Linked DNA regions of Homo sapiens. The protein of the gene in region 3 purifies or fractionates together with the protein of the main gene of each other region. This does not show direct contact. Each region holds a gene or a part of one and is shown on either strand. Other genes may lie near its edges.

The links.
Region 1: the proteins of WASF3 (region 3) and FRA10AC1 purify together in Homo sapiens (affinity purification with mass spectrometry; one large-scale study listed by BioGRID and IntAct). This does not show direct contact.
Region 2: the proteins of WASF3 (region 3) and KIAA1217 purify together in Homo sapiens (affinity purification with mass spectrometry; one large-scale study listed by BioGRID and IntAct). This does not show direct contact.
Region 4: the proteins of WASF3 (region 3) and CMTR1 purify together in Homo sapiens (affinity purification with mass spectrometry; 2 studies listed by BioGRID and IntAct, with this or other methods). This does not show direct contact.
Region 5: the proteins of WASF3 (region 3) and OGFR purify together in Homo sapiens (affinity purification with mass spectrometry; one large-scale study listed by BioGRID and IntAct). This does not show direct contact.
Region 6: the proteins of WASF3 (region 3) and CENPF purify together in Homo sapiens (affinity purification with mass spectrometry; one large-scale study listed by BioGRID and IntAct). This does not show direct contact.
Region 7: the proteins of WASF3 (region 3) and LPP purify together in Homo sapiens (affinity purification with mass spectrometry; 2 studies listed by BioGRID and IntAct, with this or other methods). This does not show direct contact.

Annotation. Positions count from the first base shown.
Region 1 is NC_000010.11:93,681,627-93,685,672, reverse strand, and holds part of FRA10AC1 (protein FRA10AC1), read left to right. Parts: intron 1-313; coding exon 314-427; intron 428-1,574; coding exon 1,575-1,617; intron 1,618-4,046. UniProt on the Homo sapiens protein: May be involved in pre-mRNA splicing.
Region 2 is NC_000010.11:24,544,536-24,548,581, forward strand, and holds the end of KIAA1217 (sickle tail protein homolog), read left to right. Parts: intron 1-445; coding exon 446-568; coding exon of another isoform or gene 569-583; exon of another isoform or gene 584-1,291; coding exon 1,292-1,789; 3' UTR 1,790-3,308; downstream 3,309-4,046. UniProt on the Homo sapiens protein: Required for normal development of intervertebral disks.
Region 3 is NC_000013.11:26,560,306-26,564,351, reverse strand, and holds part of WASF3 (actin-binding protein WASF3), read right to left. Parts: intron 1-4,046. UniProt on the Homo sapiens protein: Downstream effector molecules involved in the transmission of signals from tyrosine kinase receptors and small GTPases to the actin cytoskeleton. Plays a role in the regulation of cell morphology and cytoskeletal organization.
Region 4 is NC_000006.12:37,439,545-37,443,590, forward strand, and holds part of CMTR1 (cap-specific mRNA (nucleoside-2'-O-)-methyltransferase 1), read left to right. Parts: intron 1-4,046. UniProt on the Homo sapiens protein: S-adenosyl-L-methionine-dependent methyltransferase that mediates mRNA cap1 2'-O-ribose methylation to the 5'-cap structure of mRNAs.
Region 5 is NC_000020.11:62,802,909-62,807,634, reverse strand, and holds the start of OGFR (opioid growth factor receptor), read right to left. Parts: upstream 2,801-4,726; 5' UTR 2,776-2,800; coding exon 2,605-2,775; intron 2,168-2,604; exon of another isoform or gene 2,048-2,167; intron 99-2,047; coding exon 30-98; intron 1-29. UniProt on the Homo sapiens protein: Receptor for opioid growth factor (OGF), also known as Met-enkephalin. Seems to be involved in growth regulation.
Region 6 is NC_000001.11:214,641,042-214,645,087, reverse strand, and holds part of CENPF (centromere protein F), read right to left. Parts: coding exon 1,764-4,046; intron 532-1,763; coding exon 1-531. UniProt on the Homo sapiens protein: Required for kinetochore function and chromosome segregation in mitosis. Required for kinetochore localization of dynein, LIS1, NDE1 and NDEL1.
Region 7 is NC_000003.12:188,870,914-188,874,959, forward strand, and holds part of LPP (lipoma-preferred partner), read left to right. Parts: intron 1-1,729; coding exon 1,730-1,850; intron 1,851-3,437; coding exon 3,438-3,566; 3' UTR 3,567-4,046. UniProt on the Homo sapiens protein: May play a structural role at sites of cell adhesion in maintaining cell shape and motility. In addition to these structural functions, it may also be implicated in signaling events and activation of gene transcription.

The DNA.
Region 1 (4,046 bases), on a different chromosome or scaffold from region 3:
CAACTTTCTGAGAAATATGTCCATTCTTTAATACTGTCTTTCCAAAGTGTAAGATTCCCTAATAGGGAGTCGCTAAAATGTCTATCTAAATACAGTCTATCAAGCAAGAATTCTGTGACTGATTTTTTTTGGTAACAGTACTTTGATTTGATACTTGTATACAAGTTGGTTGAACATATTACTCTGGTCAGTTTTTAAAGGCTGACTATGGTTAATTTGCATATTTTAGAAGTACATTTTAGGGGTAATACTAGATCATATAGATAAATATTATCACCAACTACCATAGCTAATATTCCTTTCCTTTCTGCAGGTCAATTTTTCTGTGGAAATAAATATTGTGATAAAAAAGAAGGCTTAAAGAGTTGGGAAGTTAATTTTGGTTATATTGAGCATGGTGAGAAGAGAAATGCACTTGTTAAATTAAGTAAGTTGATTTTAGGGGGTATATGATTGATTCTTCCAAGTTTGTCTTTAATTTAAAAATATATAGACTTTAAAATTCAAATGCAATTTTTAACATATCTTTCTGGAAGTGCTCTTTTTTCTTGGAGCTTCCCAAAGTCTCAAAGAACTTTTCAGCCTCAGTTTTTTACATTTTTAGCATTACAGTGGTGTTTCAGTAAAAAGAATTCTAATGTCAAATGTAAACTGGTAATTTGTAGAGTGGGGCTCCGTCCCCATTAACTTGAGAATGCCACCACATTACATAGCTAAGAGGCACAGTATCAGAAAAGGCAGTGTAATCTCACATTAGCTGATTACTCAGTGATATCGTTGTAGCACAGATAATAAACAAATTCACTCTGTTTCACAGTATTAATAAAGAAAAACTTTAGGAAGGCATAATTGTTCTTGACCTCAGTCTTAAAACCATAGGGAATAAATACTCCAGAATACAGCAGTTTCCCTTAGGATGCATGTTTTAGAGTCTGTCATTCTTTTATTTATTTTTTAAGTTAGTCTTCATGTGTCAGCTGTTCCTCTAGCCTTCTCTGGGTCCTAAGTAAATGTGCCTTCAGAGTTTTCTGCTCATACCTAATAAAAGTCAAGAATGTCCCCACATGCTACGTATGCATGTCAATACAGACTGATTTCTGAGTTCCTTCTGGAAGTGCTCAAGAGGAAAAGTCAGCCAGTGTGAACTGAGATTAAGGCAAAAAAAAAAAAAAAAAGAGACCACAATTATGGAACTATTTGAAAAGCTCCTTTGCATTTGAAAGTTCTTAGAGCACTTCAGAGGAAATGACTATACTCACATTATTATTAGATATCTTTGATGTGAGACACATGTTAATGTGCCTGTGGAACACAGTTTGTTTTTGGAACAAATTGACAACACATTTTTCTAAAATAGTGTTATTTTCAATTCCTCAAGCTAATATTTTTATTATATGTATGTGTGTATATATTTGCATTTTTGAGGTGATGAAGGTCAGATTGTTTTCTTTGGATTGTTTGTTTACCCTCTTATAGTAATGGAATATAAAGAAAGTGCGAATTTATGATATTAAAAGTAGATTAGCAGTGTGGTTATTCAAAATCAGCCATTCAGTGGTGTCTTTTCTTTTTAGGGTTATGCCAAGAATGTTCCATTAAATTAAATTTCCATCACAGGTAATGTCTTTTAAAATGCCATTCTTAATGTTTAGTAATCCAGGATATAGTCATTTACCTGCACTAAGTATCTAAATGTAGACTTAGGTGGTTGATGGTTGAATTGGTTGATCATGTAGAAAATGTGGCATTGTCGTATGGCTACATAAACGAGGGGTTTAGAAGTCCGCTATGCCCTATTCTTGCCAAGCAGTTTTAAATGTAAAGGCCTATGTGAGGTGGTAGATGGATGTTAGAATTTTTAGTTTGGAGCCAATGTTCTGACACTTTAATATTAGAAATTATGTTGTAAAGCAGACTTCATAAAGCAGTTCTTGTGTCTCATTTAGACAGTGTTTTAGCTGGAGTTTGCCATTCTTACAAAGGATTAGACACCTCTATACTCATTTTAAATGTTAAAATCAAGAACAGGCGCGGTGGCTCATGCCTGTAATCCTAGCACTTGGGGAGGCCAGTTTGGGTGGATCACTTGAGGTCAGAAGTTCGAGACCAGCCTGGCCAACATGGTAAAACCCTGTCTCTACTGAAAATACAGAAATTAACTGGGCGTGGTGGCAGGTGCCTGTAATCCCAGCTACTGGGGAGGCTGAGGCAGGAGAATTGCTTGAACCTGGGAGGCAGAGGTTGCAGTGAGCCAAGATTGAGCCACTGCATTCCAGCCTAGCAACAGAGCAAAACTCTGTCTCAAAAAAAAAAAAAGTTAAAATCAGGCTTTTATTGAATGAGCTTTAATGTATCTGCCACATTGAATGTGTGGGAATACCAGTGTCCTGCAGTTATGGGGTTTGAAATCAGACCTCAGTTTTTAATCTCAGCTTCTCCGCTTACTAGGCTTCTTCTTGGGCAAACTGCTTAACCTCTGTAAGGCTTAATTTTATCACCTGTAAAAATGAGGCTACTCAGGCTATTGTGGGGAATAAATGAAAGTGCATGTAAAGTGCTTGCCACAGTACCTGGCATTAAAGATGTTCACACTGATTCTTCGCAACTTGCCTTTGTGATGGTCAGGTTTTATGCGCTGGATAACAGTTAAAAGTTCAGCTTTTGCAACTTTATAAAATGTATACATAAGCATATTAATTTTAAAATAGCTTTCTTTTTTTTAATCACATGGGTTGTCAAAAAATAACAGCTTTGTTATAAATGTGCCTATATAGTATTTTAGCTGTTAAAAATAAATGTTAAATAATATTTTTAATTCTTAAAATTAGCAGGATTATTTTTATTATTTTCATTATTCTTTATTTTTTTGAGACAAGGTCTCACTCTGTTGCCTAGGCTGAAGCACAGTGGTGTGATCATGGCTCATTGCAGCCTCAGCCTCCTGGGCTCAAGTGATCCTCACACCTCAGCCTCCAGAATAGCTGAGACTACAGGAGTACATCACCAAACCTGGATAATTTTTTTTTAAAGTTTTTGTAGAGATGGTGTTTCCCTATGTTGCCCAGGCTGGTCTCAAACTCCTGGACTCAAGCAGTCCTCCTGCCTCAGCCGCCCAAGGTGCTGGGATGATAGGCATAAGCCTCCACACTTGGCCAGAACTTTTTTGGATTACTGGAATAGCCTAAACCTTTATTTCCCCTTCCCATCAGTGATACTGAAAGAAAGCAGGGATTTGTTTTGACCTTGACTTTTGAGCTTCATTTCAAAATGGAAATGATTCTTACAAAATATGCAAAAGTGGTTAATGCATTAAATACTATTATAGCATTTAGTAGATGTACTTTAACTTGGAAAATCTACTGAACAAGTTTTTTGAAAGTAATCTTTTCCTTTGTCTCTATTCTCCTTGCCAGTCCCAATTTCAGCATTATCACTTTTTCCCATTTAGTATTTCTTTTCTTAACCTATTAAAATTAATTAATTGTTTGCCAACCTTGTAAACCTGCTCTAGAAGAGATAAAGCTGCAACAATAAGAGTATAAATTATAAGTGGCCTGATGTTGATATATGAATTAACAATAAGCCCTTTCCATTTTCATTCCATTATGCTTCTACTATATTCCTTTATTCTTAAGAGTAGAAATTTCTATTTACTGGTGGCTTAGAGCTGTTCAGCAGTTTCTTCTTCTTTGTGTTTTTTTAACATGTAGGTGGATATGGATTATGTGAAGGGAAATGAGGCTTTTTTTTGTAATTTAGTTTTAAATGGCTAAGTGATAGAATATAGAAAGAAAGAAACAAATACAATTATAATTTGTATTTACTATGGTCGTATACAGAACTTATAGAAAGTAATTATTTGTGTCAGTGTTAAGACTTCATTATCTTATAGAATGATTTTAATTAATATACAAGCATAAAATATTTACAGTCTCACTTAACGTTCCTTATTATATAAATCACATTTAAAAAATAAGTATTTTAACTGATTTTGGTTTTTTGTTCATATGATGGTTATTTTTGAAAAGGTCAGTTGGAAAAGTTAA
Region 2 (4,046 bases), on a different chromosome or scaffold from region 3:
TAATCACCATTAGTGAAAGGTGTCTTGTAACTTAATTGCTTTCTTTCAGGTGGCTTTTTTTTTTTTGTCTGTTCGCCATGAAACCCTTCTTTCATACTTTCTCCCTCACCTTCCAAACAACAACAACTAGGTATCTAACAGCTAATCAGTTCTGTTTTTGCCTCTGTTGCTGACTGGTGTTGGGTAAACACGAGGCTGCTGGGTCAGCCATGTGCTGTTGAAATGGTTGCTCTGATACTCACATTAAAATCCGTTTGATCAGTAGTGAGCAGTTGATTCTGTTTGATTCTTCTGATTAACCCCAGTTGGTGTCTCCTAGATCTGTCCTGCATGTAGGGCTGTGGCTTCTCACCTTGAGCTTCTCTGCACATCGTGGGGCAGCCTCACAGATGACCTACTCATGCGCTTCTCCTTCTCTTCCCCCTCTCACTGGTCCTTCCCACAGGGCTCCAGCGGGGCCCCACAGACGAGCAGGATGCCTGTCCCCATGAGTGCCAAGAACAGACCCGGAACCCTGGACAAACCCGGCAAGCAGTCCAAACTGCAGGATCCCCGCCAATATCGTCAGGTAGTTTTACCTTAAACCCACTTTTGGATGGACGCTATTTCAGTTAAGCAAGTCACTGACTTAGTTTATACCAAATATTGTGCTTTCTTTGTAAGATAACGGTTTACATAGACATCCTGGATCTGGGGGCATGAAGAAAGTCTAAATAAACCTTTGTTACACTTTTTTACCACGCTTTTGCATGCTTGCAATAAAACATCTTTTACTTTGTGACTCCAAACTCCAAATTTTAACTGTTAACACACGGTGCCAGACCAGGTGGCTTTTCTTTGGTGAATGTAGTGTTTCATCTGAACACCTCGGGAAGCAGAGACAAACCAACCTGTGGTTGAACTGCCCTTAACGTCACCACTACTAACGTCTATGTTGACTGTATTGTGTTAGAAGCACATTAACACTCCGTCACAATGCCCGACCCCCACCCCAGTAATTATCCAGACGCATGGCCCACCTGGCACACAGGAAATGGTAGAGCTGGAATGATGGGACTCCTCTCACAAATGTATTCTTCCTTTCCTCCTTTCCCGTCCATCCTTTGCTATGTACATGGGGGGTTTCTACCAGGTCCAGTAGAGCACAACAAGACTTAGCTCAGGCCTTGAACTGTGTTTGGTTGGTTTTCTTTGATTGAATTATTCTCAGAAGGGCTGTGTTGCCAGGCCCTGTGGGTTGATCATGTGACCGCCTTTCTGACAAAATGTCTCCCGCCATCTTTATTTGCAGGCTAATGGAAGTGCTAAGAAATCTGGTGGGGACTTTAAGCCTACTTCCCCCTCCTTACCTGCTTCTAAGATTCCAGCCCTTTCTCCCAGCTCTGGGAAAAGCAGTTCTCTGCCCTCTTCTAGTGGTGACAGCTCTAACCTCCCTAATCCACCTGCTACTAAACCATCGATTGCTTCTAACCCTCTCAGCCCCCAAACAGGACCACCTGCTCACTCTGCCTCCCTCATCCCTTCTGTCTCTAATGGCTCTTTGAAGTTTCAGAGCCTCACTCATACAGGTAAAGGTCACCATCTTTCATTCTCACCGCAGAGTCAAAATGGCCGAGCACCCCCTCCTTTGTCATTTTCCTCCTCCCCTCCTTCTCCTGCCTCCTCCGTCTCACTGAATCAAGGTGCCAAGGGCACCAGGACCATCCATACTCCCAGCCTCACCAGCTACAAGGCACAGAATGGAAGTTCAAGCAAAGCCACCCCATCCACAGCAAAAGAAACCTCTTAAAGGTCAAATCCTATTAGGCACAAGTCGGAGTTACATTTAAAAAAAATTAACAGTCTACAACAACTGTTTTCACAAGAGAATGTAACATATTGCTGTATCGTTTGAGGCTTAATGCTAAATATGTGCTAAATACTGGATTAATAGATTTCAGTAAAGCTCGTTCGTTTTGTTTGGTTTTCTTTTTACCTAGTTGCTATAGTGTCTACAGTCTATACTCAATACCTATAAAATGCAGTAAGCATGTGTTACAGAAAGAGGTTCTGGTGGGAGAGAAAGGTGCGTGTGAGACAGGAGAATTGTCTTAAGCATATAAAACATGTATGATTCCAGAATTTTAGTATGTTTTGTATAAAACTATTTTTCATTACGGAGACTAGAAGTGAACAGAGAATTACACAAGTGTGACTATACAAATTGTAAAACAGATACTATAATATTTCCTTTTATTTTAGTGTTATTTAGCTTTATTACAGATTTCTATTTTTGTCAAAACTTCATGGTTCCTTTCAAGATCTTTTTTGCCAAAACATTTTGATACTATAGCATTGTACATTTGAAAGTAGTGTTCTAGACTATAAAACCAATGAACTTCTACATGAGCCCTACAGACAGGCATGTGTAGAAGGCAATTTATCAAACCTATTGCACTGCCATGAAAAGTGTGTATAATAATTTGCTAGCCCAAGCAAGCTAGTTTTCTTTGCTTGCTTCTTTTCTTTCTTTTTTCCTTCCTTTTTTTTTTTTTTTTCTTTTTTAACATGTTGAGATTCTCTAGTTGTTTTCTTTGGCGTATCTAACCCCTTCTTTTGTTTTCTGAGACCTGGTAACCCACGCTCTTGCATTGTGGATTTTAAAATGTATACTCTGTACGGTTCTGTAAACCGAAAAACTTTTGTAAATATATAAATATACATAGACATAAAAATACTGTATGTGACAGCACATAGAGTAGTTTTCCCACACCAAAGTTAATTTTTATGCATGCTTTAAAAGTATATATCGGGACCGGCAGAAATGGAAGTATCCATACATTTTTAAAAAGCAACAAGTTTGCACAGCTAGAGTGTTTTTGTAAATAAATGTATTTGTATAACACAGTCATGTAATATACAGAACTATAAGCAGAGACTTTGCAAAACTAAATAAAGGGCTGCATGCTTATTATTTTTTGTACCTTGTCACTATAACTACTTCCTAGTCAAAGAACGAAATGTAACTGTTACCGAGTTAAATGTTTTTCCGCTTTGAGGGATGTAACCACATCCACTCAGAGGACACTACTTTTCTGAAAGCTCTGGGGTGACTAATGATGAGTTCCTAATAAATTAATTGCAAGTGTGGTGCCTTGGATGTGGCCTGTTGGCTCGCTTTCTTCTCTGTGGCTTATCAAGGTGTAGATGACAGAAAGCAAACCTGGATACAGAGTTTCCACCCTCAGTTCCTGGAGGGGCTCTTATTATTTTCTCTCTTTTTAAAAAACTTCCAGTAGAAGTAAAGTGGAAATAAAATGTCTTTATCACTTGGCTTTTTTTCTTTTGAGTCCTCAACTTAAAAAATTATTGTTGGCCTAGAGGGAAATACGCTTACACCATATGTTTTCATTTGTTAAAATGGGAAGAAGCCAGGCACGGTGGCTTATGCTTTGTAATCTCAGCATTTTGGGAGGCTGAGGCAGGAGGATCACTTGAGGCCAGGAGTTCCAGACCAGCCTGCGCAATATAATGAGACCCCATCTCTACCAAAAATAAATAAATAAATTTAAGTTAGGTGGGCATGGTGGTGTGTGCCTGTAGTCCCAGCTACTCAGGAGGCTGAGGTAGGAGGATGGCTTGAGCCTGGGAGGTGGAGGCTGCAGTGAGCTATGATCACACCACTGCACTCCATCCCAGATGACAGAGCAAGACCCTGTCTCAAAAAAAAAAAAAAAAAAAAAAGGTGTGGGGGAAGAAAATTAGTGAAAACAATACCAGGATTATGAATTAACCACAGGAACAATCTCAGGAAACTACTTAGATTTTTCACCTCAGAATGTTTCATTTGGTGATTTCATGTAAAAAGCAAATATTTTTGGAACTCAGTTGTTCAGTGTTTCTGAGTTTCAGGCTTTCTTACTTCAGGATGCCTCCGCCAGAAATATTCATATCTCTGTTCATTATGTTAATGGCAGTCCCGTGTTTCAGGTGGCACTTAGGAAAGTATTTAGGGTCCAACATTTCAATCATGTCCCATAATCACCTTAATGACATTATATTCATTT
Region 3 (4,046 bases):
GTCTCTATATGACGACGACGTTCAAGAGGTTATCTGACAAGCTGGAACACACATATGCTATGCACAGATTATATACAAGGCACCACCCTATGTGGTTCCTGCCAACAAGGAGTTTGTGAACTAGTTAGCAAGATAATCTATCCTGTTTTACCTCACTTGAATATAAGCTTTCTGAGGGCAGCAGCTTGGTCATGTTAAACATTCTTATCACTGCTAACTAGAACAGTGCCTCAGACATAGTTGGCATACAAACATGTGTGGGCTGACTTAAGTATTTAAGGAAAAACTAAAAGGAAGAAAAGATTAAAATACCAAAAAGGTTCAAGAACATATAACACAACAGAAGATATCTTTAGATCAATTTCAAGACCACTGCTCCAAGGTCAGAGGGCACCCTGAGAAAAGATCCCAGGGAAATTTCAGAAAGTACAAAGTTGAGAAATCATCCCAGATGCTGAGCTCAGAGCCAAGGCCTAGAAGCTCCAGGAGACCTAAAAGATGAGAAATACCCTAGAATGTCTGTGATGTTTAAAATGTTTTAAAATTTAAAAAAAAAAAAAGTCAGAAGAGCTAATCTCCCAGAGAAGAGGCACATGTGCAGGCACAGAGAAGAAACAGAAGCATCTTTGGCTCCAAAGATTAAGGCTGAAATCTAAGTATGGAAAAACTATTCTTTTTTTTTTTTTTTTTTTTTTTTGAGATGGAGTCTCACTCTGTTGCCCAGGCTGGAGTACAGTGGCACGATCTCAGCTCACTGCAACCTCTGCCTCCCGGGTTCAAGCAATTCTCCTGCCTCACCCTCCCTAGAAGCTGGGAGTACAGGTGTGTGCCACTACAACTGGCTAATTTTTGTATTTTTAGTAGAGACAGGGTTTTGCCATGTTGGCCATGCTGTTCTCGAACTCCTGACCTGAGGTGATCAGCCTCCCAAAGTGCTGGGATTACAGGTGTTAGCCACCACACCAGGCATTAGTGCGGAAAAATTATTATAATCTATAAACATCTATGACATCGGGGGCGGTGCAACACTTTGGGAGGCCAAGGTGGGAGGACTGCTTGAGCCCAGGAGTTCAAGACCAGCTTGGGCAACATAGCAAAACACCATCTCTACAAAAAATAAAAATAAAAACATCTATGAAGATAGGCGGATAGGATCTGACACAAAACTGGTGCTGAGGTAAGTAGCAGAAAAAACACTGACAGGAGAGAGTATTCTGTCAGAACAGGACAGCAAAGGAGGACAGTCAGCCACAAAGACATCACGACCTGGAGACACAATGGCACCTAGGAAAAGTCCAGGGTGGGAAGCAACCGCCCTGCAAAGGAACAACCAGTCCTCAGAAGAGCATGTCTTGAGAAAGGAAGACAAAAGGTGTTCTTAAGACAACAGCAAAAAAAAGAGAAAATAAAGTCACTGCTAGAAAGAAAAGAAAAGAAAAGAGAAAAGAAAAGAAAAGGGAGGGAGGCGAAGGGGAAGGGAGGGAGGAGGGGAGGAGAGGGGAGGGGAGGGGAGGAAATCAGCCTACACCAGATGCCCCTCTCCAGTTAATGTCATTCTCTCCTCTTCATAATCAAGTTTGGGAAAGAACCAGCTTCCCTCCCTCAACACCCTTCACTCTGCAATCCACAGCAATGAGGTTCCACAGACTCCTCACCAAGATCATTCATCATGTCCTCAGGCTAACTCCAATGGAAACTCTGAAACCGCTATCTAGTGGGCTAACTCCAATGGAAACTCTGAAATTACCCTCTCCTGGTTCTTTACCAGCATTTAAACATGCTCAAATCCCCCCATTTAAAAAACAAAAACCAAAGGGTTCCCCCTTTATCTGCCCTCCCTATAACCACCCCTAACCACCAGCATCAAATTTCTTGAGCATTGCTGTCTACACATGCTGGGCTCCACTCCCTCACTCTCACTCACTATTAAATCCTGATACAAACTGGCCTCCCCCTCCCATCCCTGTCATGTCACTGTTGCCTCTAGTGTCCCCTGTATTACTAACAGCTCGCAGCAGCTGAGCACGCCCTGCCTGCTGAGGTTTCCTCGGACACCATGACCCCCATCCTTCTTAGTCCCAGTGTGGGAGCCTATTATCTGCTTCCCTTTCAAACACAAGAGTGCCTCAGATCTCACTCCACACCACTCCTTTTCTTACTCTATACACACTCCTCAAATGACCTCATCTACTCCAACAGCTTCCATTAACAAATACTGCACAGGCAAAGGCAGGAGTTCCAAAACTTTCTCTGTTCACCGCACCCTTGGAGTCTCAGGCCAAAACAAATGCTTATTGAGCAAAGAAAATGTTAAAAACGTAAGTACTTAATGTCCTAACAACTTGGTACCAACTTGAAAAAAGTACACTTTAATAGAGAGAAAAAATGGCATTTTTATTTCATTCTTAGATAACCACAAGTATTTACTAATACAGTATGTGTACACTTGTTGAGCACTGCACAATTTCTCTCAAACCTTGGAGTCAGACTGGACAATGGCCTCCCTCATTTCCTTTTCTACACTGATTTTCACGTGCTACAGCAACCACCAAAAATCCTTCTTTACAAACATGAGGTCATCGAATGGAATGGAGTGCAATCTAATCTAGACATTTTTAACTATCTTGAGCTAGTAGTTTCCACAGGCTTGAAGAGACGGAACTATGTGTTTTCCTCAACAATGTGAAACATCCCCCAGTCTCCCTGTTTGCTGTAGCACCTTAGCTGATAGTTTGGGAAACTCTCAAACTGTTTGAGACAGTCTGGGACAGCTAATAACTCTCACATGCGTCTCTCTAATCCAGACAACTCCTGATTATCTGGATCCCTAGTGCAGCCAACTGAACACACTGTCCCCTCAGCACCTGAAACTTAACCCAGCCAAGTGTGACCCATAATCTTTTCCCCAAAATGGATGCTGCTCTGTCCCCACCTAAGGACAGTGCCATCACCCAACCACCCAGCCAGAGCTGGACACTGCCCTGAACTCCTCCCTGCCCCAACTCCCCCCACCACATACACACACACGGCCAATGACCAAATCCCAGCAATTCTACCTCCTCAAATTTCCCTGCTTCAAGCCTTCCCTCTTCTAATCCATTCTCCAAAGGGCAAATTTGACCGTGTCCCTCTTTTGCTTACAATTCTTCAACCATTTCCTGTTGCCCACAGAGGTCTCCGAACTCCACACAACAGTAATCACAAGACCCCACAAGGCACAGTCCCTCCTTACTTCTCCTCCCTCACTTCTTGCCACTTCCCTGCCCTTGCCCACAACCACCCCCACTGGACTGAACTCCTGGTGTTTGTGGTTGCTCCAGTGCATCACCTCCCTGACCATCTCTCTGTACACCCTCTCCTCAACCCAGACTTCGACCAATTCCTTCTCATGGTGCTTCCTCTGGGAGGCTTTCCTGTCTCTCTGAACGTCCCTAAGCTTGGGTTTATGGTCCTCCTCTGAGCTCTTGTTGCTGGCCCCTTTCAGATCCCATATCAAACAATACATTGTAACCAACGGTTAAAACTCTTTGAGACTGAACTGCACAGCAAGCTCATCGGGGGCTGACAGAGGTATCTGTCTTGTTTATCTCTGTATCCCCGGCACATATTAAAACTCTGAAGTGTACTGAATGAATAAAGCAAATGAATGAATGGATTAGGTCATGCATGAGGCTCCTACATCCCTCACTGATTACTGACTCTATCATGGTACTTATCACACTGCACTGTAATTGCTTGTCCTGGTAGACTATGAACATCTTGAAAGCGTCTGTCTCTTATTTTTGCAACCCTAGTGATTAAAATAGTACCTGGTACCTAGTAGGCATTCATGAAATGGTTTTTTTAACATACAGGGTTATATATTTCATCTACAGTATTAAATGGAAAAAATCCAGAAGGATACACCCTATATTATGGTTACCTCTGAAGAAAGAAATAGGAATAGGACAACAATAAGACGGGAAAAAGAAAACTTAAGACTTTTTACCTCTATAAATCTCTGTGTTGATATTGTTTATTTTATAATGTACATCATTTATGTATTA
Region 4 (4,046 bases), on a different chromosome or scaffold from region 3:
TCAGCCCAGATTCATGACCTTAATCAAAAGCTTCCTTTATCGGTATCTGTTTAAATTGCTCTAACAAGTTACCATTTGTCTGGCATGAAGGAGAAATTGAGTCTTTAAGTAGGAATGAGTTTATTTCACCACAGTCGTTAAGCAGGATGTGATGTTTATTAAAATTCATAATTTATTTTTCTGTATCTGTGTGCTGCCCACCTTGGCCATTAGCGGTTGGAGCTGCCCCTCTTTGTTGTCACTGTCATTTTTTAAACATAGTATATGTATTCTTTTTCTTTTTTTAGTGACAGGGTTTCACTATGTTGCCCACACTGGCCATGAACTCTTGAGCTCAGGTGATCTTCCTACCTCAGCCTCCCAAGTAGCTGGGACTACAGGCACATGCCACTGTGCCCAGCTTGTCACTGCCAATTTTAATCTTGGCATGTTTGTCCCATTGCTGTATTGCCATGTGAAAAATTTTGCCAACAGCCAGGAGACCTCTGTTTCCTCTGTAAAGTTGAATCTTTCTTCCTTGTAATGACTTAATAGTGATTTCTATCAAGTGGAGAAGAAATCTTAAAACCGTACATACTGTTTTGGGCTCTCTGGTAGGTTTTAGGAGGGGAGCTCCCCAGGAGGTAAATGGGAATGCCATCCAGCTTTGGCAAATTCTTATTGAAACTAATGAGTTTAATAGACTGACCTTATTACTCCTATTTACAACCTCATTACAAAATTATCTGCTCAATGTTTGCTAAATTCTTTATCGGTCTTGAGAAGCTAAGCCTCCTGTTTAGTTCCTGCTGCAGCCGTGACAATTGTCTCCCTTTCATATGAAAAGAGTAGCCTCAAAGGCCCCTGAGTAAGAATAAGTAGTGGCTGTGGCAGTCTGTGGACATCAGGAATAATCTAGGGAACTTTGGCTTAAAGCATGTCAAGCTAAGAAGTGGTCTCCTATACCACGTGAATAAAAGAAAAAAATAAGACTTATTTGCTTATCTAGCACACTTCTTGATCTTACAAGGAATTGCCTAGTAGGGTGATATTTTACTCCCATTAACCTCACTCTTAGAACCTGGAAAGGATAATGTACATTAGGTAACACCTTGGGAGGAAGAGTAGGAGGGAAAAATCTTTGTGCCAAAGTCTGGTACTGGAATTTTACACCAGAGTCACCACTGATTTGCTTAGTGAGCCTTCCACTCAAATTTGGTTCTCCCTGTCATTTTTGCCCAGAGATATTCTGAAGACAGAAGGAAACAAAAGATCTCTCTTTGAGATCTTAGGGTGGCAGGAACCCTGTGTGCCCAGGAATGTTATTTGTACTATCTCCGTGCTCATTGTTGGGCCCTCAGGCAAATCTAACAGCCTGGCAACTCTTTAGAGCTGGAGCAAGGGCATACCCTCCTTTGAGAAGGATACCGGGTTTTCAGACTTTTTCATAGGTAGACCTATGAATGTCCAGATTGCTGGTGAAAGGAGTAGCAACTGATTTAGCATTGTAGCTTGTGATTAGTCAGGGCCCTGGATCCCTGGGCTGCCCAAGAGGAACTTTAGGGCTCTGCTTAGGGAGCTGCCCACATTCCTGGTACCACCTGTTTCTGTATTAAGTAGTACAGGTTGAAGGCATGAAAGCAACTGAGTGAAGAGAATCCATACCTTTGGAAGTGCAGTTCTTTAGCATGTGGGCACTCTGTTGCAGAGTGCATCTCTCTCCTCTGCATGGGAGAATAGATGAGAGGCCCTAGAACGGTCTTGAGCCATTTAGAAGGCCTTTCCCCTCAGATTTGCTGCTCTTGGAAGATTTCTCTGGAAAGGAACCAACCTCTTCCCAAGGCTTGGAGTGTTAATCTATTTATTTATAGCTTTTTTTACCCTAATTTTCTTTTTCTTTTTTTTTTTGAGACAGAGTTTAGCTCTTGTTGCCCAGGCTGGAGTGCAATGGCTCGATCTCGGCTCACCGCAATCTCCACCTCCTGGGTTCAAGTGAATCTCCTACCTCAGCCTCCCGAGTAGCTGAGATTATAGGCATGTGCCACCACGCCTGGCTAATTTTGTATTTTTAGTAGAGACAGGGTTTCTCCATTTGGGTCAGGCTGGTCTTGAACTCCTGACCTCAGGTGATCCGCCCGCCTCGCCTCCCAAATGTTGGGATTACAGGTGTGAGCTACCGTGCCTGGACCTTGATTTTCAAACTAATACATTCTTGTGTCTCACAAATGCAGAAAATGCAGGAAAATGCAAAACAAAAGAAATATCAGTTCACCTCTCAGTTTCCATGGTTACTCATTCTTAGTGGTCTGGGTTTTCTGAGTGGCACTCTCTGGCACTCTGTGACGTTTGCCAGATTGGTTCATGTAAGCAAGTCAACTCGATTAAGAGAATTGGACAGCCACCATAAAGGGAAGGGCAGATTTTGTGCCTCTCATACAGGGACATTCTCAACCAAAATTTATCCTTGCTAACTTATTAGAAGCCAGAATTTTGGTTTTAAGTTTATTCTTTCACACATGTTCACCTGTCTTTTCTTTCTTTTGTAAAATGTTGTATCCTTGAAAATGCATATTAACCTTATCTATTAGATTTTTAAGCTCTCTAAGGGTTGTTACTTTTGCACAGTACCCCATTATATGTAGCATGATCTTTTATAGAATAGGTGCTGAACCAGTATAGTAGTCTGATCTTTTAAACGGTATCAGTGTTCTGAACTATGACAGATGTCCTAATTCAACCTACTGGTGGGGAAGCTAAATCATAGCCCAGGAGGGCTCCGTTCTCTGTTAAGATATAGAGATCCCATTCTCATCCTTAAACTTCTGAGGCCTGAACAGCTTGCACTATTTGTAAGAGGAAATGTCTCAAGGAGTCATATACTCTGTAGGTCCTTAGGAAAGTGATACTTGGCTGACACATCTTTACATTTACTACAGTAATCATTTAATTAATTTCTATTAAATGGAAAGCCTCAGTCCAGGTGTTGGGTACAGACTGTGACATAGTTCCTGCTCTCCAGGAGTGACCCTGTCCAATGGGGACAGCAAGTGGCAAACAATAACTGGCTCTAAGGCAATGTGATGAGTGCTGTGCCAATGACACTGGTGTTACTGGAGCACAGTGGAAGGGATAATCAGTTAGGCCTGGAGTGCTGGGGAAAGCTTTGTTCTTCTTGAATGTCAACCCTTAGCAGGTTTTGGTTCTGGTAGGGAAATGGATGGATCACTTAAGATTGGCTTCAGAATTATAATGTATTCTTCAAGTTAGAAATACCTGAATAGTGACCACCTCGGGTCTATTAAAAAATGTTTTACACACTGCCGTCTGTGACTTTCCTTCAGTACTTCTCACAAGCAGCCAAGTTTTGAATCAACACCCTTTCTGAGTGGTGTCCCTTCTTCTTCAAAGGAATTATGCCACATTGCTAAGTCAATATTTTCATATTTATTTTAAATTTTAATAGATAATATATTCACATGGTTCATAAGTCAAAAAATATAAAAAGATAGCCAGTGTAAACTTTCGTGGTATAAAAATGTAAATCAAGTTTCACTTTTGCTTTCACTAGTTCCAAGTAATTGTTTTGGTATTCTGTCTCCAAATGCTAACCCCTGAATGTGTGAATAATCACTTTTATTGGTCTTCTTGTATATCGTTCCTTCCAAAAGCTCTTTTTGCAATTATAAGAAATAAAAATGTTAGCCTTATAATGGAATCGTTGAAAATGGAATCAGGCATCAGTGTTTGGATATTGATGTTCTAATAATAACCACCAGCAGCAGAAATAACAATCATATCTTCAGTAAATACACTTTATATTTGACAATGTACTTTCTTTTTTTTTTTTTGAGATGGAGTCTCACTCTTTTTGCCCAGACTGGCATGCAGTGGCGCAATTTCGGCTCACTGCAACTTCTGCCTCCCGGGTTCAAGCAATTCTCCTGCCTCAGCCTCCCAAGTAGCTTGGATTACAGGCACGCACTACCACACCCAGCTAATTTTTGTATTTTTATTAGAGATAGGGTTTCACCATGTTGGCCAGGCTGATCTTGAACTCCTGACCTCAA
Region 5 (4,726 bases), on a different chromosome or scaffold from region 3:
TGTGTCCCGGGGCAGGGGCAGGTACGTACCGGATAGTTGTGCCGATACCTACACATGTCCCTCGTGGCTCGCCAGTTTCTGGACCCTGTCATTCTGGACTGGGAAGAAAAGAGATGGGATTAGGACCCCCATGGGAGACCCCCAAGTGAGTCCCAACGTGGTGAGGGCTGCAGGGCCTGGGCCAGCTGCCACAGAGCTGTCTTTAAAGGGCGGGGGTTTCATGGCTCCTCCCTCTCATTCTCCTGCCCTGGCTCTTTTTTGGGGGTTCCCAGTGGGGCAGATTTGGGCCTCAGTAACGCATCCCAATACCCTGCACAGAACCAGAGAGGGCTGCGGTAGCCAGGTGGGGGGCTGCTCCTTCTCTAGGCCCCTTTGGGACTCCTGGCTTCCACCTTAGGGTGGCCCCTGGCTGACATGCACCTCCCCTGGGGTGTGGCCCTGACCCTCTCCTCCTCCTAGGCCTGCTGGCCACCTCCACCCTGGCTTTAGCCTCTGTTCTGTGCCCCTGGAGACTCCCCCTGCTTTGTACACTAAAGTCACCAGGCTGTGTTCTTGGGGGCAGTGGCCTCACCACCTGTAGCCCCAGAAGGGGACCCAGGTGCTTCTGGCAGGGTCTAATGAATGAATGCCCCTTCCCTGCCCAACCCCACGCCTCACTGGCCACGGTGAGGGCAGGCCCTGAGTCTCCAGCCTCCAGCCCTGTCTAGTGATGGCTTCTCAGCAAGATGTCAGGTCCCCTTGATGCCCCAAGCCCTTCAGCCCCCATCTCTGCAGGCCAAGCATCATGGGGCTGAGCAAAGGGCCGGAAGTACCTAGTGATGAGGATGGTGGGACACAGCCCTGACCTTGTGATGAGGGTGGGGGGCCTGGGGCTGAGCCTCACTCGGTGGGTAGGGCAGGAATGGGCGTATTTGTCCAGGGCAACAATTGGGACCCAGGATCCTGGGGGAGTGCTAGAAGGGGGGTTAGGAGGCCCGGTCAGCCACTGTATCCCCTGGCTCCCCGCTGAGCTCCAGCTGGGACCTGGCGTTGCCTCTCTGCCTGATTTTTCTTTCTTATTTTTTTCCCCTCGAGATGGAGCTTCATGCAATCTCCACCTCCCAGGCAATCTCCACTCACTGCAACCTCCACCTCCCAGGCAATCTCCACTCACTGCAACCTCCACCTCCCAGGTTTAAGCGATTCTCCTGCTTCAATCTCTGGAGGAACTGGGATTACAGGTGCCCATCACGCCTGGCTAATGTTGTATTTTTAGTAGAGACAACAGTTTCACCATGTTGGCCAGGCTAATCTTGGACTCCTGACCTCTGGTGATCCGACTGCCCAGGCCTCCGAAAGTGCTGGGATTACAGGCCTGAGCCACCGCCACCGACCTCTCGGCCTGATTTCTCAACAGGGCCGCTGGTGTGGTTCTCTCGCCCCGCCTGATCATCAGTTTCTACTTCTCCTTCCTGGGGCCAGCGGGAGCCTCCCTGGGTCAGTTCTGGAGGCTGGGTCCTGACTGGATGTGGCCACACAGTCAGCCCACAGGTGCATACATGACACTGCCCAGGAAAAAGTGAAACAGCCCCGCCAGGGTCCAGCGCAGGCAGCTGGGGAGGCCTGAGGGGTCCAAAGGGGAAGGGGAGGGGCTTGTGGACAGAAGCCACAGCAGGAGGCAGAGGGAAGAGGTCAGGGGTCACGGGCGCCTGGCAGGATGGTCAGGGCCTCTGAGCACCGCTTCAGGAGAGCGGCCTGAGGAACTCCAGTGAGGAAAGCCCGTCAAGAGCCCACCCAGGGGTCACACCGTCCTGTGGGACAGAGCCAGACCCCACCCCCCTGCCCAGCCTGCCTGGCCGCTGCCCTCCCGGCGACAGGGCGGAGCCCCTCCGTGCTCTCTCACTGCCCGCTCCACCATGGCCAGGCGCAAACGCAAACAGTGCTGGGTGCCAAGGGGAGAATCCATGCGGAGCCGTCGAGTTCCATGCACTTCCCGGCCCTCCGCAACCCGGGCAGCTCAGCTGGAAGGCCGCTCCCAGATCAATCCCAGCTCCCCGACAGGGGGGCCGGACTGCGACAGTGTGGCGTTCCCAGCGCGGCAACAAAAGTAACCCCGGCGATGACAGGCGCCCGGCGGTAACAAAAGTAACAAGCGGAGGCCCCGTCGGCCCGCCCCGGGCTCCCGCAGGTGCAGACGCGAAGCCTCCCAGGCCAGACCCGGCCCGGGCCCCAGCCCCAGCCCCAGCCCCAGCCCCAGCCCCAGGCCGCGGGGCCTGCGCAGGGGCCGCCAGGAGGCCGAGGCGCGGGCCCGAGGCGGGAGGGGTTCCATCAGGGGCGGCCACGGCGGCTGGGGGCGGGACGCGCCCGAGGCACCCCCGGGGGGAACGGCGCCCACACACGATGGGGCCCGGGAGGCTCAGCTCCGCTGTCACCCACGCGCGGCCCCCGCACTTCCCCGCCGGGCCCTGGGGCTGGGGGTCGGCCGGTCTGGGGGGGGGTCCCCGGGGCTGCGGGAGCTCCAGGAGGCTCCAGGTGTCTCCGCCCGGGATGGGGGGGTCTCCCGTCCACGCAGCCGGGCGGGGGGCGCCGGGGACCCCAGGCCTCTTCCGCGCCGCGGGGCCGCACCTGGAACGAGCTGGGCCGCGCCGCCCGCGGCTCCTCCGACTCCTCGTCCTCGTCCCCTGCGTCCGCGTCCCTCGCGCCGGCGGCCTCGCCGTCCTCGCAGTCCTCGTCCTCCGCGTCCTCCGCATCCTCCTCGTCCTCCTCCCAGGTGGAGTCGCAGTCGGGGTCGTCCATGCTCGGCGGCGGCGGGGCTCGCGCTGGAGGCGGAAGCGAAACCGAAAGCAGAGGAAGCGCGGGGGGCGGGCGGGGGGAGGGGACGGAGCGGCCCAGGCCCCGCCCGCGTCCGCGCGCAACGCCCCTCCCTCCCCGGGACGCCCGCCCCGCGCCCCTCCCTCCCCCGAGAATCCCCCAACGTCCGCCCGGGAGGATGCCCCTCGCGGAACGCCCACCCCCACCCCACGATGCCCACCCGGGAGGATTCGCCCCACCCCGTCTCGCAAGGATGCCCGCCCTAGGAGATCCTCCCTCCCGAAAATGTCCCCAAAGCCTGCCCGCCCCCCAGAGGACGGTCTCCCCGGAAGATGAGCCGGGTACCTAGGAAGGATGTCTTCCCGACGATGTCCTCCCAGCAGGATTCTCTCCCCGGAGGATGCCTGCCCCGCAGAGAATCCCCTCTTCCAGGAATATTTCTGTCCCCCAAGAGAAATCCCCCCAGAGGATGTCCCCATCAGAAGAATGTCCCTTGGAGGATAACCCCCGGAGGGGCCACGTGTCCACAGGGGCCTCTCTCCCTAAGCTGGGTGTGTAGGGGTCTCTGTCCTTCTGCTGCGGGCTGGGGGCCTTACTCAGCTCCTGGAAGCTGCTGGCGGACCCCTGTCCCTCCATAGGCAGTGCAAAGCACGGCCGTTTTCTTTTCAAAGCCACCAGGGGAGTCTTTCTCTCTAGGGTGCCGAGTCTTATATAACCAGGATGACATGGGCAAGCCGTGGCTTCCTTCACCTTTGCCGCCATCTCTCAGTTGTAAGAAGGCACTTAGGGGAGAGGACCACACGAAGCCTGGGCCACCGGGAGGGTCACCCTGGGGACTGTTCAACACAGCTGATGCCAGTTCAGCGCCTCCTCAGGGCCCTCTCTCTAAGCACTGGCAGATATGGGGCAACACAAAGTCACTTTCACCTGCCATTTCCCAGCACCGCGGGTCCCTTGCTCATCCACCTTTGACATCTGCTGGCAGATACATGGCAAGGTTGGTGACCTCTTGAAATAAAAATCAGGAGTGGCCACTCCAGATAAATTTCTTCTGTAACTGCTATACCAATTCATTTCAAAACATTTAGGTAAAACTAAATCTGGATTTTGGACTTGGCCATGAGGATAGCTCCTCGCAGAGTTGTCCCTGTAATGATGGTGGTGGAAAGGTGGAGAAGGCCCCAGCCCAGCCCCTAGGGGACACTGCCATCTCCTAGCCCTGCAGGCCTGCTGGGCCTGGGAACTGGTGACATTCCTTGTACTGTGTGCCAGGGACAGCCGTGAACGCAAGTCTTCCAATCCTGGCCACAAGTACAGGTTAAGGACCCTCTGGGTGCTGGGCCCTAATCTTTGCTGACCTGTTGACCACTGTTAGCAGGTGCAGTCTCACCTGGCTGGAACCTGTGGACATGCATCACACTTTCTTGAAACGACAGTGGTGATGCCCCGAAGTTCTGGGGCGCTGGACATTTCTGTAAATCAACTTAGTGCAGTGGCCAGGGCAGGTTTCCCAGGGAGCCTGAGTGAGCTGCCTGACCTCCTTGTTAGATGATTTACAGGTGGGATCTGGTTGCAGCATCAGAATAGACTGTGAGGTGGAGTCGGGGGGCTCTGATGGGGACATTGATGGGTGCTGGGTGGTTGTATAGGGTTTGGGTGATCTGAGACTTGGGTGGTCAGGCTGCCCCCTCCACTGCCCCAGAAAACAGAAAGACAAGCATACTGGGTGCTGACAACATTGTTCTACGGGGACAGCATTCCCGCTGCTACCTACTGTCGGCAGGACTATAGAACCACTTCCCTAAAAAGAGTATTAGAGACATTGCCCAACTTCTGTTTTACAAATATCACCACACCAAATTGCTTCTTTAGTTGCTTTTGTGTTGTGTGTGTGTGTGTGTGTGTGCAGAGCTCATCTCGGGGGCGTGCTAATCCA
Region 6 (4,046 bases), on a different chromosome or scaffold from region 3:
GTTTTCTTTCTTAAGTTCCCCAACTATTTTTTCCAATTCTATGCATGCTTCAATTTTGGTCATTAGTTGTACCTCCTGTAAATGGAGTTTTGAGTCTAATTCTTTCATTTCATTTAGCAAACTTTCAACTTTTCTGTCACGGTCCTCTATCACATGAAGTAATCTCAAATTCTCATTTGATGTCTCTTTTACCCGCAGTTGAAGATTATGGATATCTTCCTGATTCCCCAGGAAATCCATAGGTACCAAAGCATTAGGACCAGAAAATGACAATTCAGAAATGCATTCTGAAGAGCCCTGGGTTTTATCTTCCCCTGGAGGCTCATAATTGGTATCTGGGGACTGTTCCCCAGAGCACTCTCCTGTGGGTTTCACTGCACCAGTCTCAGTTATTTTCTCAATGTCTAGATTGAGGTCCTGCTGAGCATCTTTATCACAAATCTGATGAACATCATGCTTTGGTGTTCTTTCTGTAGTTTCTGAAGTATGTTCTTTTGATATGTCACAGCTCTCATTTCGGCCTTGAATAGCCTGTAATTATAATACATAACAAGCATGCATTTTATTTTTCAAAAAGAATCAAAATAGAATAGATTTAGTTATTACTTTTTAGAAACTGATGCGTGGCCTCTGCTAAACACATCTCTTAAAGTGGTGAATTTCCCACTACATCTTTCTCTCTTCATTCAAATGTTCAACATACTTATACGTTCAGTAAGTGGCCCCTATGGGCAAGACACTGGGGTTAGGCATTTATCTTGAAGACAAACCCTTCGGCTCAATTACAATTTGTAATGTATTTAAATTTCATATTTTTCCCTTGCTAAGAATATTCAGGTAGCCTAAATATGAAATCTCTTTGTAATTATTAAATAAGAGGCTAACAAAATGCTCAGCTTCCACCTTCAGCATTTATGATACTCTTTAATAAGGCAGTAAAGTTTCATAACCAGATTCCCAGTCCAAGGACTTAATCCCCAATCCAGCACTTACTGTACATTATTGGATAAATTACATATTTGAGCCTCACTTTCCTCTCATCTGTAAACTGGGGATCTGCTGTTGCACCTACACCTGCCATCACCTCACCATGACCTGCCTTCTCTACCTCACAGAGATAGACAGAGGAAATCAAGTGACATGCATACACTATATAGCATTATTAATTAAGCTAGCAGGCTAGAAAGGACAAAGTTACAAGCAATTAAACAAATATGTATTCAATTTTTTAAAAGCCCTTTTAAATGACTTATACCAAATCATATTTTTGTACCACAGTAAATTGTTAGAGAGAAAACTGTTTAGTAATACATAAAGAATCTGCTGTATTTAGTTTCATGACGATAATGCCATAACATCAAAAATAGTCTGAAAAGTGGGAGAGATTAAAAATTTACATATTACCATTTGTAAGTTCTTAATTATTTCAGTATACTTTATTAATGCACAAAGGGTGGAAACACACATTCTAAAGACTTTCTGACTCCATAATATAATTTTCTCCAGACTTTAAAAACATCTTTAGTAATATTCTATATAATGCTATGTAAATCTAATCCCTATAGAAATTTATTCCTCAAATAACGTTTACTCATTTTCCTCAAGTTCTGGTTTGTTTTGAAAATATTTTGGTGTATTTTATTTCCTTGAACCCTAAAAATATTTTAACTTAGGTTTAATGTACATTTCAATTAGACAAACATTTACTGAGTGTCCACTAGTCATGTAAACCGAGAAATGGCATTTAAATCCCAGGTACTTACATCTTCTGTGTCGATGCCAAGCAAAGACCGAGAACTTAAGTCCAGACCTTGTAGCTGGAGTCGTGCTACTTCCAGCTCAAGTGACAGTTGTTCCGTCTGTTTCTTTTCTGCCGCCAACTTGGACTCCATCTCCAGAGTCACGCTTGTCAGCTTCTGTTGCCACTGTTCATTTTCTGACAAATACTGCTTCCTAAGGCAGTCAAGCTCTTGCCTTTCAGAACTTAATAACTGCTCGAGCTCTTGAATTTCCTTATTTTTCATAATCCCTTGACTTTCCATTTTCTCTTCTAGCTTCTCGAGGGACTGCCGGTACACCTCACAGAGGGACTCAAGCTCTTCAACACCCTTCGCTGGGGCCGAAGGGGTTTCTTTCCTGGTCAGATTCTCCTCCTGCAGACTGCTGCAAAATACTTCATCTACACTGCACTGGTTTGCTGAAACAGCCCCTTCTAAATTACTCAAAAGAGACATATCTCCTGTCTGTTCTAAAAGAGCTCTGTAAAAGGAGGAGTCTCCCAAACTGCTAAGACTAGAGCTGTCAGGCACACAAGAGGATGACAGGGATGGAACGAGCCCCTCCTCCAAGCCCAGCTGCATCTCCTTCACCAAGTCACCTTGAAAGTTTCTCAGATTCGTTGACAAGACCAAATTTTCGGCCTTTAATGAGTCAACATAGGTCTGCAGCTCTGACATTTTAGAGCTCATCTGACAGTGCTGATCATGTAAAATTTTGTGTTCACTTTGTAAAGATAAGAATTTCTCTTGCAATTCGGCAAAGTGCATTTGAACTTCTTTGTCTGACAATGTCAAGTGCTCGTAGGAATTACTCTCGTCCAATGGAGCCAAAGACACAGGGTGCTGTTCATTTGGTTGTTCACCAAATTCACCTCCTGGTATGTCTTCCACTAACTCACCATGGAGAAGACCACTGTCATCATTTAATATTTTAACTTCATTTAGTAGTTTCCCTACCTCTTCTGCCATTTTCCTAGTTGCTGTGATACATTCTGACCTTGAATCATTCAGCTCAGTTACGAGTTCATACTTTTCAGCCTGCAGTATTTCACATATTTTCTCTAGCTCATTCAGCTTGTTCATTGTTGTTTGCAGAGAGCACTGAAGGTGTGCATTGTCGTTTTGACTTGTTGACAACTCATGAGGCCCTGAAATATACTTTTCTTCCGCATCTATTTCACAGTCTTTAAGGCCACTAATTTCTTGTGACTGCATGTCTTGCAAATTGCTGGTTTCAAGATCTCCTCTAATTGTCTGTAATTCATGCTGCAGGCACTCCTTCTCCTTCTCACTTTCCTGAAGTTTTAATTCCTTATTTCTTAGCATAGCTTCTAATTGCACCAACTGCGCATTATAACTATCTAGAGAAATTTCTTTAACTTCAAGATCCATCTGAGGTTTAAAATTACATTGATTTCTCTCACTCTCTCTTTCTTTCACAGAGTTCCTAATTGGTTCTGATTCTAGATTTTGACATTCATGTTTAGTCTTCATTACCTTCATCAGCTGTTCATTCTCTTGTAATAAGTCATTAACTTCCTTTTGCATTTTGTTTTGTTCTTCCTTTAAAGTCATGATTTCTTGCTTTAAACCACCAGCCTCGCTCTTAGAATTGTTTTGGTTATCTGTCATCTCAGATCTCAGAGCTTGCTGCACTGTCTCCAACTCTAGCATCAGATTCTGATTTCTTTCTTCAGCAAATGCTAATTTTGTTAAGAATTCTTGGTGTTCCTTTGCAAATGCTTCCTTTAGCTGTTCCAACTCATTTTTCCTATTTTCACAAAGACTAGTGCATTCATTTAGCAAGCATTCTAATTTAGAATTCTTTTCCTGTGCTGCTTTGTATTTTTGACTAAGATCCTCATATGCATTTCCGGTTTCTTCACATCTTTGTAGTAAAATAAGTTTTTCTTGCTTGTACTGATCAGATAACTCTGAAATGCTTTTCTCCCTTTCATCTATATAGTTTGCAAAACTCTCACTTTTCTGGATTAAGTTCATCTTCTCTTGATTTAAGGATGCATTAATTTCCTTAAGAGTCCCATTCTCTTGGGTCAGCTCTTCAATTTCCCTTTTATTTAGAGAAATGATGGAACTCATTTCTTTCTTCTCCAAGCTTAGGGTTTCGGATAAAAGTTGTAGCTCCTTTAGAGAGTCTTCAAGTAGATGGTTGCTCTTTTTTAATTCTTGAATCTCTGCCTGCTCAGTTTCTACCTTATCATTTAAAAGTTGCAGCTCTTTTTCCTTGTTCTCAAGGGCACTTAAGGT
Region 7 (4,046 bases), on a different chromosome or scaffold from region 3:
CCCAACTAATATCTTTTTTTATACAGAAATATGGCAGATTCATTTCATTAGATACAGCCCAACTTTTTTTTTCTGCACCAGTCACAGTGGTTGTTCCTGGAGACTCAGAGATGGAGCAAAGTCCTATCTTGTGGAAACTTAGAGTTTAGTGCCCCATAAATATATCCAAATAATTACTACCAAAATGGATAAATTCAATGACAGAATTCTTATCTTAGAGGAGTAAATAATTCTATTTGGGGAAATTGGAGAAGGCTTATGGATACACTGAAAAGGAAAACATACTTCTGCTCCCACAGAGTTTGGGGAAAGGAAATTTTGCAGTTGATCCCAGAAGCCTACTTATTTCACCACTGATGACCCAGATTTAAAAATAATCTGGTAGTCCAAAGCAATTTTTTGCCACTGAATATAAACTTCTTGCATAAAATACCAATTATAACAACTCTGATTACTGCTGCAGTGGTACCATGATCCTTCTAACTTTTCTTTCACAGCAATCAATTGATCTGCTGCTTAATTCATATTTATTTAGATTGCAGCCATACAGATGCTTTTTGGGTGCTGCCAGGAAAATTAATTACCTACATATAGAATATAATGTATGTAGAAATGCTTTGACAACCGTAACGTGCTCTGCAAAGAGTTAGATTATTATCATTATTTCTTTTTAAGTCTCACTACAAATAGATAAATTTTTAACATCGTTTATCTTAAAACCAGTACCATGAAAAAACTGAGTCACAGTCTGTTTTTCTTTTTTTAAATCTCTTCAGTTCTTATCCAGGTCCATTTCAAATAATATGTCATTTCATACCTTCACAAATACCATCTCCAATTTCCAGAAGATACAGAGAGATACATGGCTTATATTTTCAGCCAATTAACCTGTCATAGAAAAAAAATTGTTAGGTACCATTGATCATATTGAGAAATACTAAGAAATTAATAAGTATTAAAAGTATTTACCAGCAGCCTCAAAAACATATGCATATGCATATTTATATGTATATGTATGTGTATGTGTGTTAGTATACACTCACCCTTTAACAGTGCTAAAATCCTTTAAAGAATAAAGAATTTGATAGCTCTTTAACTTTTAATTTTTAAGCAAAAGTTTAACACAATAAAAAATGTAGGAAATGCAGACTTGGCCACTTTTAAGTTTTGTGTAATGTATATTTAAACGCACTAACCTCTGCCCTTTTGAAAAGCTATGTATTTGAGTCTTCTTATGTCAGTTCCTAGAAGTCAAGGCAAATTTCCAAGAAAGAAGCTCTAAAAGGTGGGAACAAGGCAAAGATACCAACCTCAGACTATTTTTCTAGGACCTAAGGAGTGCATACAAAAGTCTAGAAACAAAAGTCAGAAACAAATAGGGGCTGGACAGGACTTTGTTCTCTCCTCCAGTTAGCCTATCCCAAGCACAGGGTTTGCATTCAGAATCTATCTAAAGATGAATTTCATACCGCGCACCATGCAGGAAAGAGATGCTAGATGCTCTTCATGCCCAAGCAATTCACACGCTCACTCTCTCACCTCGCCAAATATCACAATATTTACCACCGATTGATGGAAGAACCTCCACAGTCCCTGAGTCTAACTCCCTCACCTTACGGATGAGGAAGCAGGTATACCGACTCTCAGTTTCCACCTCTTCCTTTTACCTCTGCGTCCCACCTCAGTGTCGACGCGCAGTATCTAACCAGAACTCTCTCTTCACTTTCAGGAAATTTGCCCCGCGATGTTCTGTGTGCAAGGAGCCTATTATGCCAGCCCCGGGCCAGGAGGAGACTGTCCGTATTGTGGCTTTGGATCGAGATTTCCATGTTCACTGCTACCGATGCGAGGTCTGGTTGACAGCCCTGCCCTGCCAGTCTGTGGCAGGCGTTGAAAGGCTCGTTCGAGCTAGGTTTACATAGATGTAGCAATTACTAAATCTCAGAACGGCCTTAGTGCCTGTACTCATAGGACTTGGGTTTTAGATTTGACACTAGTATTCCGAGCACATGCTGTTGAATAAGTCACTGTACCTCTCTCAGTCTGCTTGCTCACCGGAAGAAAGGACTCAAGTCCTTAACTCCTCCAAATATGGCTGTGAGAGTGAAATACAAAATTGTATATTAAAGGACATTGTAAATTGTGAAATACTAAATTAGTGAGAAATGGTGTTATTGAACATTTAACTTTGGCTCTGAGGCTTTGGTTAGAACTTCTTGTTCAGAGTCATGGAGATTTATTTATTTGTTAGCATGCACTACTAATTGCTCAGTTTCCTGAACGCCTCTAGAGCTGCAGTATATCTGCATGTTCTTTTCAGTAAAGCCAAACTTCCCGCAGAGTATAACCATTGCTGCTATTGTGTTCTGGATACCCCGTTAACTTAAATTTCATTCTATGTCAAATGAAGACATGAACTCCATTGACCTCCTTGCCACCATGGTAGATAGCAGAGGCGAGGTTCATAGCTGTTGTGGCCTTTGAGAGTTTATACTAAAGTTAGCAAACACACACCTCTTGATGAAGTACTATGTATTTATTTTCCAAAGAAACTTCTATTTTCTCCAAAGACAAAGGCCAGCATTTAACTGTTATATAACACTTTTCAAAATGGACCCTAAGAGGAGCTGTCAGCGGTAGTATATTCCTTTACAGTTATGCAGTTCTTTGCATTTTTTTTTTTGATCCATTATCTTCTTTGATCCTCTTAACAGCTTGGTAAGGTAGAAAAGGCAGAAGTTATTTTCAGAGTGGCAGTCGGCCTGTGTGCATTGAGGCAGACTGTAGCAAAACTGTGGGTGGTGCTCAGGAGGCCTGTCCCCTGGACTAGCAATCTTTGCTCTCCACAATGCTGTCTCCTTTAGAAAGTACAGCAAACCACTACTCCCCACAAACTTTAGGATTTTATTTTCTTACTGCAGTTGAAGTAAATACACCGAACCCACTGGTGGCCCTTCTGCTTGGCAGACATCAGTCTACCTTTGCTCTAGGCCAGAAATGGCCAAAACATTCCATTCCTGTACCTGTGCATGCATTTTGAGAGATCCTTAAACTAATGGTAAAGGGTAAAAAATGCATCGGTGGTTAGGGACATTCTTATTTTCTCTTGTTGAGTGGGGGCAGCAAACTTCTACATGGGAGCCAAGATGGGTGGCCTCTTCTCTTCTTATACCTGTATTTCATATCAAGTGAGCTTAGGAGGATTATATTTATGTCCATTTATATTTATGTCCCCAATCTCTAATTCAATTACATTCAAGATATACTATGTTATATATTGGGAGAAAGGATACAGGGGATTAGCAGAATGTAAAGCAGGAAGGATAGTAAGTGGCCACATTATGGAGGCCTTGAATAGAAAGCTCAATCATGATGTTCTCCACATGTGTACTTAACGTTTTTACTTATGTCGTTTCCATCTGTCTTTACTGTTCTAGGATTGCGGTGGTCTCCTGTCTGAAGGAGATAACCAAGGCTGCTACCCCTTGGATGGGCACATCCTCTGCAAGACCTGCAACTCTGCCCGCATCAGGGTGTTGACCGCCAAGGCGAGCACTGACCTTTAGATTCAGTCACCTGTTCAGCCGGCACTGAGAAGAACGAACACAAGAAAAAGATAAGAAATACTAGAGTAAAGGCCATCAAACTACGCGATAGTCTCTGTTCTTCATCTGCTATTAACCTTGCCTTAGAAACACATAAATTATGAGATTTTTTTTAAAAGTTGTTACCAAATACACATTTCACATTGAATCATGTAGGATCTTGATGGGCCTTTGTTCCCAAGGACTTCCACATTTTTGCACAGATTATGCTCCATCCCATTCACTTCTGCATTCCTGTAACTTTTAATCCCTATGTTTGTCTCACTTTTCATCTGGTTGAATGGCTTTTCTTAGTGTGGTATTTGCTGTCACATAGTTTTTCCTGGGTGAGTCTGCCAACTCACAGGTGCTTTTAGGCTTGAAATCTCCATCCTATCATTTCCGTTTTGCCTGTGACTGTAAAGAGTAGCCATTCTTTTCCCATGTATTGAAGAGGATATT